Homo sapiens: one gene and its partners. The protein of the gene in region 1 interacts with the protein of each later gene in a pairwise test. Each region holds a gene or a part of one and is shown on either strand. Other genes may lie near its edges.

Region 1 (5,001 bases):
GAGCTAAGGAAGGGGACTGGGGCTGGGCCTGGATTGCTGGAGAGAGGGATCTTTGTGGAGGGGGAATTATTTCTCCTACATTGACCCTCTTCCTCATCTGCCAGCATCACGTACAATGGCTCCATGGACAGCCCAGTGCCCTTGTACCCTACCGATTGCCCCCCTTCTTATGAGGCAGTCATGGGACTACGAGGAGACAGCCAGGTGAGAGCACAGCACGGCTTGGGGCGGGCTGGGGAGCCGGGTTGTAGCCTGGAAAGCTGAACAGGCTGTAGCCTCTGGATAAAGATAGTAACAGTGGTCAAGGTCTTTACAGCACCAGCATGCCCACTGTTGCCTTTGATCTTCCCTAGAGCCTGGTGAGGTGAGTGGGTTGGAAGCTATCATTTCTGCCATACAGACGTGGAAGCTGAGGCTGCACAATTAAGTGACTTGTACAAAGGGACAAGGCTGGTCTGGAATCTAAGTCTCCAGAGCTCTGTCTAGCACATGGGGGTGTTCAGTGTGTAGGGCTGAACCCTTGACCCTGTGTCTTCTGCAGGCCACTCTCTTTGACCCTCAGCTTCACGATGGCTCGTGCATCTGTGAACGAGTGGCCTCCATTGTAGACGGTGAGCAGGGCGTAATGAGGGGTGGACAAGGGCGGGGCTGCCAGGGATAGCTGGGGTGGGTAGAGACAATAGAAGGGGAAAACAAGGCGGAGTTGGTGGTTTGGGGACATAGGAGGGCTGTGGCAACTTGGAACCCTGGACTTATTTTTCTCCTCTGAGATAAAGCTGGAGGCACAGTGGCCCCTAGAGGCTGGGCTTGGGAGAAGAGGAACTGCCTGGGCAGGGCTAGGCCAGGCCAGGCTGGTGCTACACAGCGCCCCCTGCCGCCCACAGTGTCCATGGACAGCGGGTCTCTGGTGCTGTCAGCCATTGGTGACCTCCCTGGGGGCTCTAGCCCGTCGGAGGACTCGTGCCTGCTGGAGCTGCAGGGCTCCGTGCGCTCCGTGGACTACGTTCTCTTTCGCTCCATCCAGCGCAGCCGTGCCGGCTACTGCCTCAGCCTGGACTGTGGCCTGCGGGGCCCCTTCGAGGAAAGCCCCCTGCCACGGCGCCCCCCACGGGCTGCCCGCTCCTATTCCTGCTCTGCCCCTGAAGCTCCACCCCCACTGGGTGCCCCCACAGCTGCCCGCAGCTGCCACCGGTTGGAGGGCTGGCCGCCCTGGGTGGGACCCTGCTTCCCCGAGCTGAGGCGGCGGGTCCCCCGGGGAGGGGGCCGCCCAGCCGCAGCCCCGCCCACCCGAGCCCCGACTCGTCGCTTCAGCGATAGCTCAGGTTCCCTCACCCCACCGGGGCACCGGCCTCCTCATCCGGCATCCCCACCACCGCTGCTGCTGCCACGGTCCCACAGCGACCCAGGCATCACGACCTCCAGTGACACTGGTGAGCCCCCTCCCCGACTGCCCAGGCTCAGGAGAGGGTAGGCACTGGGAGTTAGGTGGCCAGTGATGCCCACCAGGATTGGGGCACAGTTGAGGTCCCTGAGGAGGAAGAAAGGGTGAGTTCACTCCTCTGGTAGACACTTCTCAGGTACTCACCTCCTAGGGACAGAACATCCATAGCTTAGCAGCTAAAAAAGGAGAATTTTTTTTTTTTTTTGAGACGGAGTCTCTGGCTCTGTCGCCCAGGCTGGAGTGCAGTGGCATGATCTTGGCTCACTGCAACCCGTTTCCCGGGTTCAAGTGACTCTCTCCTGCTTCAGCCTGCCGAGTAGCTGGGACTACAGGTGTGCGCCACCATGACCGGCTAATATTTTTTTTTTTTTTTTTTTTTGAGACGGTGTCTCGCTCTGTCACCCAGGCTGGAGTGCAGCCGCGCGATCTGGGCTCACTGCAAGCTCCGCCTCCCGGGTTCACGCCATTCTCCTTCCTCAGCCTCCCGAGTAGTGAGTAGCTGGGACTACAGATGCCTGCCACCACGCCCGGCTATTTTTTTGTATTTTTAGTAGAGATGGGGTTTCACCGTGTTATCCAGGATGGTCTCAATCTCCTGACCTCGTGATCTGCCCGCCTCGGCCTCCCAAAGTGCTGGGATTACAGGCATGAGTCACCGTGCCCGGGCAATTTTTGTATTTTTTAGTAGAGACAGGGTTTCACCCTTTTGGCCAGGCTGGTCTTGAACTCCTGACCTCAAGTGATCCACCCGCCTCGGCCTCCCAAAAGGATTTATTTTTTGAAACCAGTTCCACAGCTCTCAGCTTGGTCCACTTATCTGTCCTCCCCAAGCTTCAGCTGTCACTTGTTAAACATGTATAATAATAGTACTTCAGGCCGGGCACGGTGGCTTGCACCTGTAATCCCAGCACTGTGGGAAGCTGAGGTGGGTGGATCACCTGAGGTCGGGAGTTCGAGACCAGCCTGGCTAACATGGTGAAACCCTATCTCTACTAAAAATACAAAAATTAGCCAGGTGTGGTGGAGCGCGCCTGTAATTCCAGCTACTAACAGAGAGGCTAAGGCAGGAGAATCGCTTGAACCTGGAAAGCAGGGGTTGCCGTGAGCCAAGATCATGCCACTGCACTCCAGCCTGGGTGACAGAGACACACTCCATCTCAAAAACACAAACAAACAAACAAAAAACATGTATAATAACAGTACTTCAGCCATAGGCATTGTACTCGAAGATGCTGAGAAAGGAGACAGTGGCCGGGCAAGGCTGTTCACACCTATAATCCCAGCACTTTGGGAGGCCAAGGCAGGTGGATCACCTGAGGTCAGGAGTTCAAGACCAGCCTAGCCAACATGGTGAAACCCCCATCTCTACTAAAAATTGAAAAATTAGCTGGGCCTGGTGGTGGACGCCTGTAATCCCAGCTACTAGGGAGGCTGAGGCAGGAGAATCGCTTGAACCTGGGAGGCGGAGGTTGCAGTGAGCTGAGATCGTACCACTGCACTCCGGCCTGGGCAACACAGTGAGACTCCATCTCAAAAAAATAAGAAAGGAGATAGTACTGGGGAACGCTCAGCACTGTGCGCCAGGTGCTGAACAACACCACTGCAGTCCTTGTTGTGGTGGATTGTACCATCTAGTTGCTGGCTAATATGGACAGAGATGCTGGCCCTTTGATTGGGGATGGAGCGTGGGAGCTGTGAAAGCTCCTCTGGGCTTGAGTTCCCACAGGAGGGTGGGCGTGTCCACAGAACACTTCCACTCACTCCCTGTCTCCCTTTCTCTCTTCTCCCCAGCTGACTTCAGGGACCTTTATACCAAAGTGCTTGAGGAAGAAGCTGCTTCTGTTTCCTCTGCAGATACAGGTCAGGCATGTGGTTTGCGCCCCAGGGATGGGGATTGGGCATGGCTGCCCAGCCCCCTCTCCACCCTACAATACCATTCTCTTATCTCTGTCTCTCTGCAGGGCTCTGCTCTGAAGCCTGCCTCTTCCGCCTAGCCCGCTGCCCTTCCCCCAAGTTGCTACGTGCCCGGTCAGCCGAGAAACGGCGCCCTGTGCCCACCTTCCAAAAAGTTCCCCTGCCCTCGGGCCCTGCACCTGCCCACTCCCTGGGGGACCTAAAGGGCAGCTGGCCAGGTCGGGGCCTGGTCACTCGTTTCCTCCAGATATCCAGGAAAGCCCCAGACCCCAGTGGGACTGGAGCTCATGGACATAAGCAGGTAGGAATTCGGGGAGCCAGGAAAGATGTTTGGGAAAGCGTGGAGCTTCAGATTGAGCCTTATTGATGATGCCCTTTCTTGTGTCCCTGTCCAGGTGCCCCGGAGCCTGTGGGGCCGGCCTGGCCGAGAGAGCCTCCACCTTCGCAGCTGCGGAGATCTGAGCTCTAGCTCTTCCCTGCGGCGTCTCCTGTCTGGCCGCAGGCTGGAGCGTGGTACCCGCCCCCACAGCCTCAGCCTCAACGGGGGCAGCCGGGAGACTGGGCTCTGACCTAGGCTTCTTGTCACACTGAACACATCCAGCCACAGGCACCAGCTGGTTGGGACCAGCAGCCCCCAGCATCCTCTTGCACTGGCTGGCACAAAAAGAAACCTGCTGTATACCCCCCAAAGTGTCCCTTTCCCTCCTACCTCTGGGGTCTCTTGCTGCTTGCCTCTGCTGCTCTGGACTGGGAGAGCTTCTGTCCTGTGCTGCATGGGTATTTAGACTGTGGGGGAGATGCCCCTTCTTATAGCACTGGAGGAGGAAAACAAATTCTTGTCCCCCTCAGAATGAGAGTGGCTCTTTCTGATTTGCAAGGGCACTATGGTCAGGGCAAAGGCATGGCCCAGGTGTTTAAGTACAGGGTGACGTGTGCCTATGCAATGGGGTGGTAAGGCAGGCACGAAGAGTCCAAAAAATCTAGGTGGCCTCTCAGCTCTGCCACCTCTAGCTGCATGACCTTGGGCAAGCTATGTAACCCCAATTGCCTGCTCCATTAAAGACTGTGAAGGTAGAATGTTTGTAAAGCTCTTAACAGTATGTAAGCCTTCAATAAATTTCAGTTTTCCCCTTGTTTTCTTGATCATTCTCTGTCACCAGTGAAATTTGTTCTAGTGTCTCTCATATTTAAGAAAACTCTTTCAGGACTGGGTATGGTGGCTCACACCTATAATCCTAGCACTTTGGGAGGCCGAAGCAAGAGGATCGCCTGAGCCTAGGAATTCAAGACCAGCCTGGGCAACATAGTGAGACCCTGTCTCTACAAAAAACAAAAAATTAGCCAGGCATGGTGGGACACGCCTGTAGTCCCAACTACTCAGGTGGCTAAGGTGAGAGGATCACTTGAGCTTGGGAAGTCCAGGCTGCAGTAAGCTGTGATTGAGCCACTGCACTACAGCCTGGGCAACAGAGCAAGACCATGTCTCAAAAAAAAAAAAAAAAGAAAAAAGAAACTTTCAAGACACTCTTTCCAACCACTAATTGTAACTCTGCTCCTCCTTTTCACAGCAATAGGTTTTCTTTTTCTTCCCTCCACTGTTAAACATCCATTCTCTCCTCACCCACCCCCATCAGACTCCTTCCCCT
Region 2 (4,304 bases), on another chromosome or scaffold:
TGGTTGCATGCGCCTGTAATTCCAGCTACTTTGGAGGCTGAGGCACGAGAAGTGCTCAAACCCAGGAGCTGGAGGTTGCAGTGAGCCAAGATCACACCACTGCGCTCCAGCCTCGGTGACAGAGTGAGATGCTGTCTGAAAAATAGCGACAACAACAACAACAAAAACCAGAAAATAATTGAGGCCTTTGATTCACAGTTTATGATGTTTTCCTATCGTTGCAGTGTTTATAAAATTGTTCTTGGCTATACTATGGAATTAAATATATAAGTATTTGGAAATTTCGTAAAGATTACCATGACTTCTAGGTGATTCTGAGATAATGTATGATCCACGGAATAGAAGTATAAGAAAGGGACAGGCACGGTGGCTTGTGCTTGTGATCCCAGCCCTTTGGGAGGCAGAGGTGGGAGGATCACTTGTGCCTGGGAATTCGAGGTGAGCCTAGGCAACATAGTGAGACCCCATCTCAAAAAAAAATATGAGAAGGTTCCTGCCCTTAAGAGGTTTAGGATCCAGCTGAAGAATCAACATGTGCACATGAAAAAAAATGGCCGTGCCCTCTAATGTCATATGAGGTCAGCGTATGAATGACGTTGGGTGCCTGCCCTGCATATACATATGTTCTTTGAGCTCATTCAAGGGAGAATTCCCATGGATTGGCACAACCAGTATGGTTTATAGAGCGATCAGGAATAAAATAGGTTTTCTTCAAAACAAGAGGCAAAAATGTGGAGCCCAGGGTGGGATCAGGGGCCTTCTGCAGCTGTCGCAGTTGGAACATGTGACGAAAGCCAGTTGATGTGACAACTGCTGGGTGGGAGGGACAGGCTTGGGGGCGGGGCTGGGAGGGCTCCTTCCCTTCCTGACCCAGGGATGGTCTTTACTTCTCCCTGGCACCTGTAGACCTGTCTTTCTTGTGTTTCAGATTTGCCATACGGATGGGAACAAGAAACTGATGAGAACGGACAAGTGTTTTTTGTTGAGTAAGTGTCTGCAAAGAAACCACTCTCAGCTGTTTTGCTTTTTAATAGGAATTTTTAATTATAAAAGTAATACATAGTAACTGTAGAAAAATACAAAGTATAACAGTGTGTATCTGTAATCTTAGCAGAAGTGACTACTTTTAACATCGCTGGAACTTTTAACATCGCTAGATTTATTCTTCTATTTTCCCCGCACACGCATCCTTAAAAAAAAAAAGTAGGGAGGCCAGGCATGGTGGCTCATGCCTGTAATCCCAGCACTTTGGGAGGTCGAAGTGGGTGGATCCTGAGGTCAAGAGATCGAGACCATTCTGGCCAACATGGTGAAACTCCGTCTCTACTAAAAATATAAAAATGAGCTGGGTGTGGTGGCACGTGCCTGTGGTCCCTGCTACTCGGGAGGGTAAGGCGGGAGAATCACTTGAACCCAGGAGGCGGAAGTTGCAGTGAGCTGAGATCGCGCCACTGCACTCCAGCCTGGGTGACAGAATGAGACTCCTTCTCAAAAAAAAAAAAAAAAAAAAAAGAGGGAATGCACTGTGTGGACTGTTTAGTAACCTGCTTTTTCCATGTAATATATTATGAGCATTTTCTTGTATCCATATCTATTTTTCAAAAAGATGCTATTTAGCAGCTCTAGAGTTATTATTTTGTACAGATATACTATAATTTATCAAATTGCCTATTGGACATTAATGCTAAATTCCTGTTATAGAGAACCTATAATTATAAATAATGTATTGAGCATCCTTATCTGTAAGACTTTTTCACCTCTCTGATTCTGTCTTTAGGATAAATTCCGGTATCACGCAGCAATAGTAACCACCTGTCCAACATATAGCATGAGCCAGGCCTGATTCTAATCATCTTGTATCTGTAGCATTAGGTCATTGGATCCCCACAGTGCCCTGAGAGGTAGTATTGTTATTATCCCTAGCTTACTGCCAGTGACACAGACTTGAGGGGGTAAGTGACTTGTTAAGGATCCCACAGCAAAGAAGTAGCACAGCCAGGCTTTGAGCCCAGCACCTGCTCCAGGGACTGTACTCTTGACCACCGTAGTTAAGAGGAGAATTAATGTTTCACAACTGTCAACATTTAAATTAGAAGCTTGAATAGTCTTTGACAGGATTAGGATTGGTTGGTTAATAGAAGTTGATTTGAGCAGGAATTTTTTTTTTTTTTAAAGTTATGAATGTAACATAAACGTTTCAGTATTTGATTCAAGTACACCAACATTTAGGGGTCGGGCCAGCCCTCCTCTGAGTGTGAGTCCACTTGCATGGATCCAGTGTGGTCTTCCTTCCCCTAAGCATGCCTGTAACATAACATCTACAATTTCTACTTTCATTTTATGTGGGCGAAAGAGTACCTAGGTGCCGAGGCAAGAGACTGAAGGCACAAACTGTTTCAGTATAATAAAGAAAGTAGTTAGAATAAGAATAGTCATAATACAGGTTAGATATGGAGATGATCATGGACAATTATCAATCATTACTATAAACACTATTAATCATTAGCTTTTAATATTACTCTTTGTGGCATTACTAACATAACCTAGGAATAACTGGCATGTATAGGCTCAGGTGCTAAAGGGACATTGTGAGAAGTGACCTAGAAGGCAAGAGGTGAGCCTTCTGTCACACCCGCATAAGGGCTGCTTGAGGGCTCCTTGGTCAAGCGGTAACGCCAGTGTCTGGGAAGACACCCGTTACTTAGCAGACCGCGAAAGGGAGTCTCCTTTCCTTGGAGGAGTCAGGGAACACTCTGCTCCACCAGCTTCTTGTGGAAGGCTGGGTATTATCCAGGCCTGCCCACAGTCATCCGGAGGCCTAAACCCCTCCCTGTGGTGCTGTGTTTCAATGGTCACGTACGTTGTCCGCTTTCATGCTCCTCCCGTACTCCTGGTTCCTCTTTGAAGTACGTAGTAGATAGTGGTAGAAGAAATGGTGAAAGTTTTAAAGTCTTTGATCTTTCTTTTAAGGGCAGAAAAGAAAATGCTGACGTATGCTGCCTTCTCTCTCTGCTTCGGCTACCTAAAAGGGAAGGGCCCTCTATCCTGTAATCACGTGACTTGCTTCACCTTGTCAATCACTTAGAAGATTCACCCTCCTTACCCTGCCCCCTTGTCTTGTATGCGATAAATATCAGCGTGCCCAGCCGTTCGGGGCCACTACCGGTCTCCACATCTTGGTGGTAGTGGCCCCCACCCTGGGCCCAGCTGTTTTCTCCTTATCTCTTTGTCTTGTGTCTTTATTTATTACAATCCCTCGTCTCTGCACACGGGGAGAACACCCGCTAAGCCCAGTAGGGCTGGACCCTACAACTTTAAGGTTGAGCAAACACAGTATTTTCAAAGAATCTGATTGCTACATCATTTGGGAGTTTTATGGTATTTTTCTAGCATTTTCACTGTAGTTGATTGAACCAAAACTTTTTTTTTAGCTGCTTGTCTTTGAGGCTCTCCAAAGCATTCGACCACATTTTCATAGATACCACTGACACTATTTTTCACCTCCCATGTTATCAGTTTGTGTAATAGTAGCTTGCTGGTAATGTAGTTACAGTAACAAGTTCAAATGACATGTGTGTTTTTTGAGCAAACCTGGTGAACTTTTGGTGCAAAACTGATATTGAGAGCAAATAGGCCAAAGCTTGCTTGAGAGAAGTCTCCCAGGCCACCATAGGCAGCCCCAGGAAGACGGGGCTGTCTAGCAGTTGGATAGGTGGGAGTGCCTATTATTTGTTAAAAGGCTTTTTGCCTAACTTGTGAAAGTTTTTTTTCCTCAACTAATTAAGGGTATCAACGCATTGGTTGTATGTTGAAAATGTTGAAAATGTTTTTTTTTTTTTTCCAAGTTTTCTTTCTTTTTTTTTTTTTATACTGGGTCTTGCTCTTCTTATCCAGGGCTGAGGTGCAGTGACACAGTCACAGCTCGCTGCAGCCTCAACCTCCTGGACTCAAGTGATCCTCCTGCCTCAGCCTTCTGAGGAGCTGGGACTACAGGCTCATGCTGCCATGCCCAGCTAATTTTTAAAGACTTTTTTTTTGTAGAGACTGAGGCTCAGTATGTTGCCCAGGCTGGTCTTGAACTTCTGGCCTTCAGCGATCCTCCTGCCTTGACTTCCCAAAGCATTCATATTACAGGCATGAGCGACCACACCTGACTGAATTTCTTAAATTTTTTATGTAGTCAAATCAATTTTCTCCTGTGCAGTCTTTGCCTTTGCATTCACGCTTGGAAAGTTACTCCCTGAAATGGGTATTAATCAACCAAGAGCAGCAGTTCTCAGGCATGGTTCCTGGACCAGCAGCAT
Region 3 (4,383 bases), about 110 Mb from region 1:
ATAACACTTTATACCAACTGCCCACTAGGATGGCTATAATAAAGAAGATAACGAGTGTTGACGACAATGTGGAAAAGTTGGAAACCTCATACGCTGTCAGTAAAAGTGTAAATTGGTACAGCCACTGTGGAAAACATCTGGCAGTTCCTCAAAAGGCTAAATATACAGTTAATATATGACACAGCAATTACACTCGAAGATATATACCCAAGAGAAATGAAAACATATGTTCACATAAAAACTTGTACACAAATGTTCATAGAAGCATTATTTATACTACCCAAAAAGTGGAAACAACATAAGTGTCCATCAGCTAGGCTGGGCACTGTGGCTCATGCTTGTAATCGCAGAACTTTGCGAGGTCAAGGCAGGCAGATCACCTGAGCCCAGGAATTTGAGACCAGCCTGGGCAACATGGTAAAACCCTGTCTTTACAAAAAATATATATATAAAAGCCGGGCGCGGTGGCTCACGCCTGTAATCCCAGCCCTTTGGGAGGCGGAGGCGGGTGGATCATGAGGTCAGGAGATCGAGACCAGCCTGGCCAATATGGTGAAACCCCATCTCTACTAAAAATACAAAAAAATTAGCCGGGCGTGGTGGCGGGCGCCTGTAGTCCCAGCTACTTGGGAGGCTGAGGCTGGAGAATGGCGTGAACCCGGGAGGCGGAGCTTGCAGTGAGCTGAGATTGTGCCACTGCACTCCAGCCTGGGCGACAGAGCGAGACTTCATCTCAAAAAAATATAGACAGATAGATAGATAGATAGATAGATAGATAGATAGATAGATAGATATAGATAACCAGGCAAGCTGGCTCACACCTGTAGTCCTAGCTACTTGGGAGGCTGAGGTGGGAGGATCACCTGAGCCTGGGGAAGTCAAGGCTTCAGTGAGCCATGATCACGCCACTGCACTCCAGCCTGGGTGACAGACTGAGACCCTGTCTCAAAAAAAAAAAAACAAGTTCTTTTCTCAAAAATTAAACATAGAATTATGTACTATATGATCTAGCAATTTCACTTCTAGGTATATACCCAGAAGTATTGAGAGTAGGCTTAAACAGATATTTCCACATTCATATTCACAATAGCCAAAAGGTAGAAACAACCCAATTTTCCATCCATAGATGCAAAGATTTTTTTAAAATGTGCTTTGTATATACAATGGGATATTATTCAGCCTTAAAAGAGAAGGGGGCCGGGGCACGGTGGCTCATGCCTGTAATCCCAACACTTTGGGAGGCCAAGGCAGGCGGATCACAAGGTCAGGAGATTGAGACTATCCTGGCTAACACGGTAAAACCCTGTCTCAAAATACAAAAGATTAGCCGGGCATGGTGGCGGGTGCTTGTAGAACCAGCTACTTGGGAGGCTGAGGCAGGAGATTGGCATGAACCCGGGAGGCGGAGCTTGCAGTGAGCTGAGATCACGCCACTGCACTTCAGCCTGGGTACAGAGCAAGACTCCGTCTCAAAAAAAAAAAAAAAAAGAGAAGGGGCTGGGCATAGCAGCTCATGCCTGTAATCCCAGCTTTTTGGGAGGCCGAGGCAAGTGGATCACCTGCTGTCCGGAGTTCGAGACCAGCTTGACCAATATGATGAAACCCCGTCTCTACTAAAAACACAAAAATTGGCTGCGCATGGTGGTATATGCGCCTGTAATCCCAGCTACTCGGGAGGCTGAGACAGGAGAATTGCTTGAACCCCGGAGGTGGAGGCTGCGGTGAGCCAAAGTTGCGCCATTGCACTCCACCCTGGGCAACAAGAGCAAAACTCCGTCTCAAAAAAAAAAAAAAAAAGGAGGGAAACTCTGACACGTGCTGCAACATTGATGAACCTTGGAGACATTAAACTAAGTGTCAAGGAAGACAAACATTGTATTGTTCCACTTTGGTGAGGTACCTAGAATAGCAGTCACATTCATAGAGACAGAAAGTAGAATGGTAGTAACCAGGAGCTGAGGGGAGAAAGGAAATGGAGAGTTACTGTTTAATGGATATAGTTTTGATTTAGTAAGATGAAAAAGGTCCCAAGATTGGACGTTCTAGAGATTGTAGGGGACTGTATGGTTGTAGAACAATGGGAATGCACTTAACTGCCACAGAAATGTACAGTTAAAAATGATTAAAGTGGGGCCTTGTGCGGTGGTTCACACCTCCTACACTTTGGGAGGCCAAGGCAGGCATGTCACTTGAGGTCAGGAGTTTGAGACCACCTCGGACAACATGGTGAAACCTTGTCTCTACTAAAATAAAAAATTAGCTGAGTGTAGGCCAGGTGCGGTGGCTCACGCCTGTAATCCCAGCACTTTCAGAGGCTGAGGCACGTGGATCACCTGAGGTCGGGAGTTCGAGACCAGCCTGACCAACATGGAGAAACACCGTCTCTACTAAAAATACAAAATTAGCCGGGCGTGGTGGCACATGCCTATAATCCCAGCTACTAGGGAGGCTGAGGCAGGAGAATCGCTTGAACCTGGGAGGCAGAGGTTGCGGTGAGCCATTGCACTCCAGCCTGGGCAACAAGAGTGAAACTCTGTCTCAAAAAAAAAAATTAGCTGAGTGTGGTGGCGCACACTTGTAATCCCAGCTACTCAGGAGTCTGAGGCAGGAGAATCACTTGAACCCGGGAGGCGGAGGTTGCAGTGAGCCAAGATTGTACCACTGCACTCCAGCCTGGGGGACAGAGCAAGACTGCCTCAAAAAAAAAAAAAAAAAAAAGATTAAAATAGAAAAAAAAAATTACTGAAGTGGAAAATTTTATGTTAGATGTATTTTATCATAATTTTTAACAAAATAAGTACTGAACATGCTACAACCTGGATAAACCTTGCAAACATGCTAAATGCTAAGGGGAAAAAGCCAGTCACAAAGTAAAAAATATCGTATGATATGATTTGTATGAAATGTTCAAAATAGGCAAGTCATGATCTGTTCCCTGAATTAACATCCCTACTGTTGATTTTCCCCCTCCCACTGTGTGGTCATTCTAAAAATATTTACATATATTTGTCAGCCAAGCACTGGTTTAGGATCTGGGAGTAAGATAGACATGGTTCATTCCTTCACTGAGTTTATGAGCCAGCATAGGAAACAGAAGTAGAACAAGTGCTAAACTTTGGTAAGTCTCTCAGGTATACCTTTCTCAGGGTAATATTAACTGAACCCCCCGCCCCGCCTCCCATTTATTTTCCTCCTAGCATTTCCCATTATCACAGGTTACCTTATTTATGTGTTCATTTTAACTCATTACCCTGTAAGTTTCTTAAGTGGCAGGCATGTTTTGTTACAGTTATAACTCACTCAGCACTTAGAACACTACCTGGCATATAGGAGATGTCCTGTTGAATTAATATGTAATGTTAATGTCACTGATGGGGAGGTACAAGTTTTTGTGGAAAGATAGGAGGGACAGATTTGTGTGTGGATAGGGGCTTGTTTAGAGAAGGCTTGCAGGAAATGACAGTTATCAGATCTAAATTCTAAAGGAAGAATAAAAGATGAAAAAAGTGGGGAGTTCACTAGGACTCAAGTGCTGCTTGCCTATGTGAGAAGGGGAGTGGTGAGAAGAGGGGCAGTACTGTTTCAGGTCTTGAAGGACCTTGTAAGCCATGACATTAAAGCTGCCAATTGATTACCTCCTTTTCTTTCCCCCATCTAGGTGGCCCACAAACTCTTTAACAACTTGAAATAAATGTGTGGACTTAATTCACCCCAGTCTTCATCATCTGGGCATCAGAATATTTCCTTATGGTTTTGGATGTACCATTTGTTTCTTATTTGTGTAACTGTAAGTTCACATGAACCTCATGGGTTTGGCTTAGGCTGGTAGCTTCTATGTAATTCGCAATGATTCCATCTAAATAAAAGTTCTATGATCTGCAAACCTGCCCGTCTTTTTTTTTTAATTGAGAATTTTTTTTTTTAATTTGATATTTTCTTTTAGTTTTGAGGGGGTGGGGAGCGGCAAGGAGGACAGGGTCTTACTTTGTTGGCTAGGCTGGAATGCAGTGGCGCAAACAGCTCATTGCAGCCTCCACTTCCTGGGCTCAACTGACCCTCTCACCGTGGCCCCAAGTTGCTGGGACTACAGCATGCATCACCATGCCCAGCTAATTTTAAAAATATTTTGGGCCGGGCGCGGTGGCTCACACCTGTAATCCCAGCACTTTGGGAGGCCGAGGCGGGTGGATCACGAGGTCAGGGGTTCGAGACCAGCCTGACCAACATGGTGAAACCCCGTCTCTACTAAAAATAAGAATATTAGCTGGGCATGGTGGCGGGCACCTGTAGTTCTAGCTACTCAGGAGGCTTAGGCGGGAGAATTGCTTGAACCCGGGAGGCAGAAGTTGCAGTGAGCCAAGATCGCGCCACTGCACTCCAGGC

Evidence for each region. The genes of interacting proteins can lie anywhere in the genome.
Region 2: the proteins of ENTREP3 (region 1) and WWOX interact in binary tests that used the Homo sapiens proteins (3 or more experiments, as listed by UniProt).
Region 3: the proteins of ENTREP3 (region 1) and UQCRH interact in a two-hybrid assay, tested with the Homo sapiens proteins (one large-scale study listed by BioGRID).

What each region holds. Positions count from the first base shown.
Region 1 is NC_000001.11:155,246,705-155,251,705, reverse strand, and holds the end of ENTREP3 (protein ENTREP3), read left to right. Parts: intron 1-104; coding exon 105-204; intron 205-541; coding exon 542-611; intron 612-884; coding exon 885-1,430; intron 1,431-3,232; coding exon 3,233-3,301; intron 3,302-3,402; coding exon 3,403-3,656; intron 3,657-3,750; coding exon 3,751-3,924; 3' UTR 3,925-4,501; downstream 4,502-5,001.
Region 2 is NC_000016.10:78,108,850-78,113,153, forward strand, and holds part of WWOX (WW domain-containing oxidoreductase), read left to right. Parts: intron 1-928; coding exon 929-986; intron 987-4,304. UniProt on the Homo sapiens protein: Putative oxidoreductase. Acts as a tumor suppressor and plays a role in apoptosis. Required for normal bone development. May function synergistically with p53/TP53 to control genotoxic stress-induced cell death.
Region 3 is NC_000001.11:46,312,894-46,317,276, forward strand, and holds the end of UQCRH (cytochrome b-c1 complex subunit 6, mitochondrial isoform 1 precursor), read left to right. Parts: intron 1-3,658; coding exon 3,659-3,691; 3' UTR 3,692-3,883; downstream 3,884-4,383. UniProt on the Homo sapiens protein: Component of the ubiquinol-cytochrome c oxidoreductase, a multisubunit transmembrane complex that is part of the mitochondrial electron transport chain which drives oxidative phosphorylation.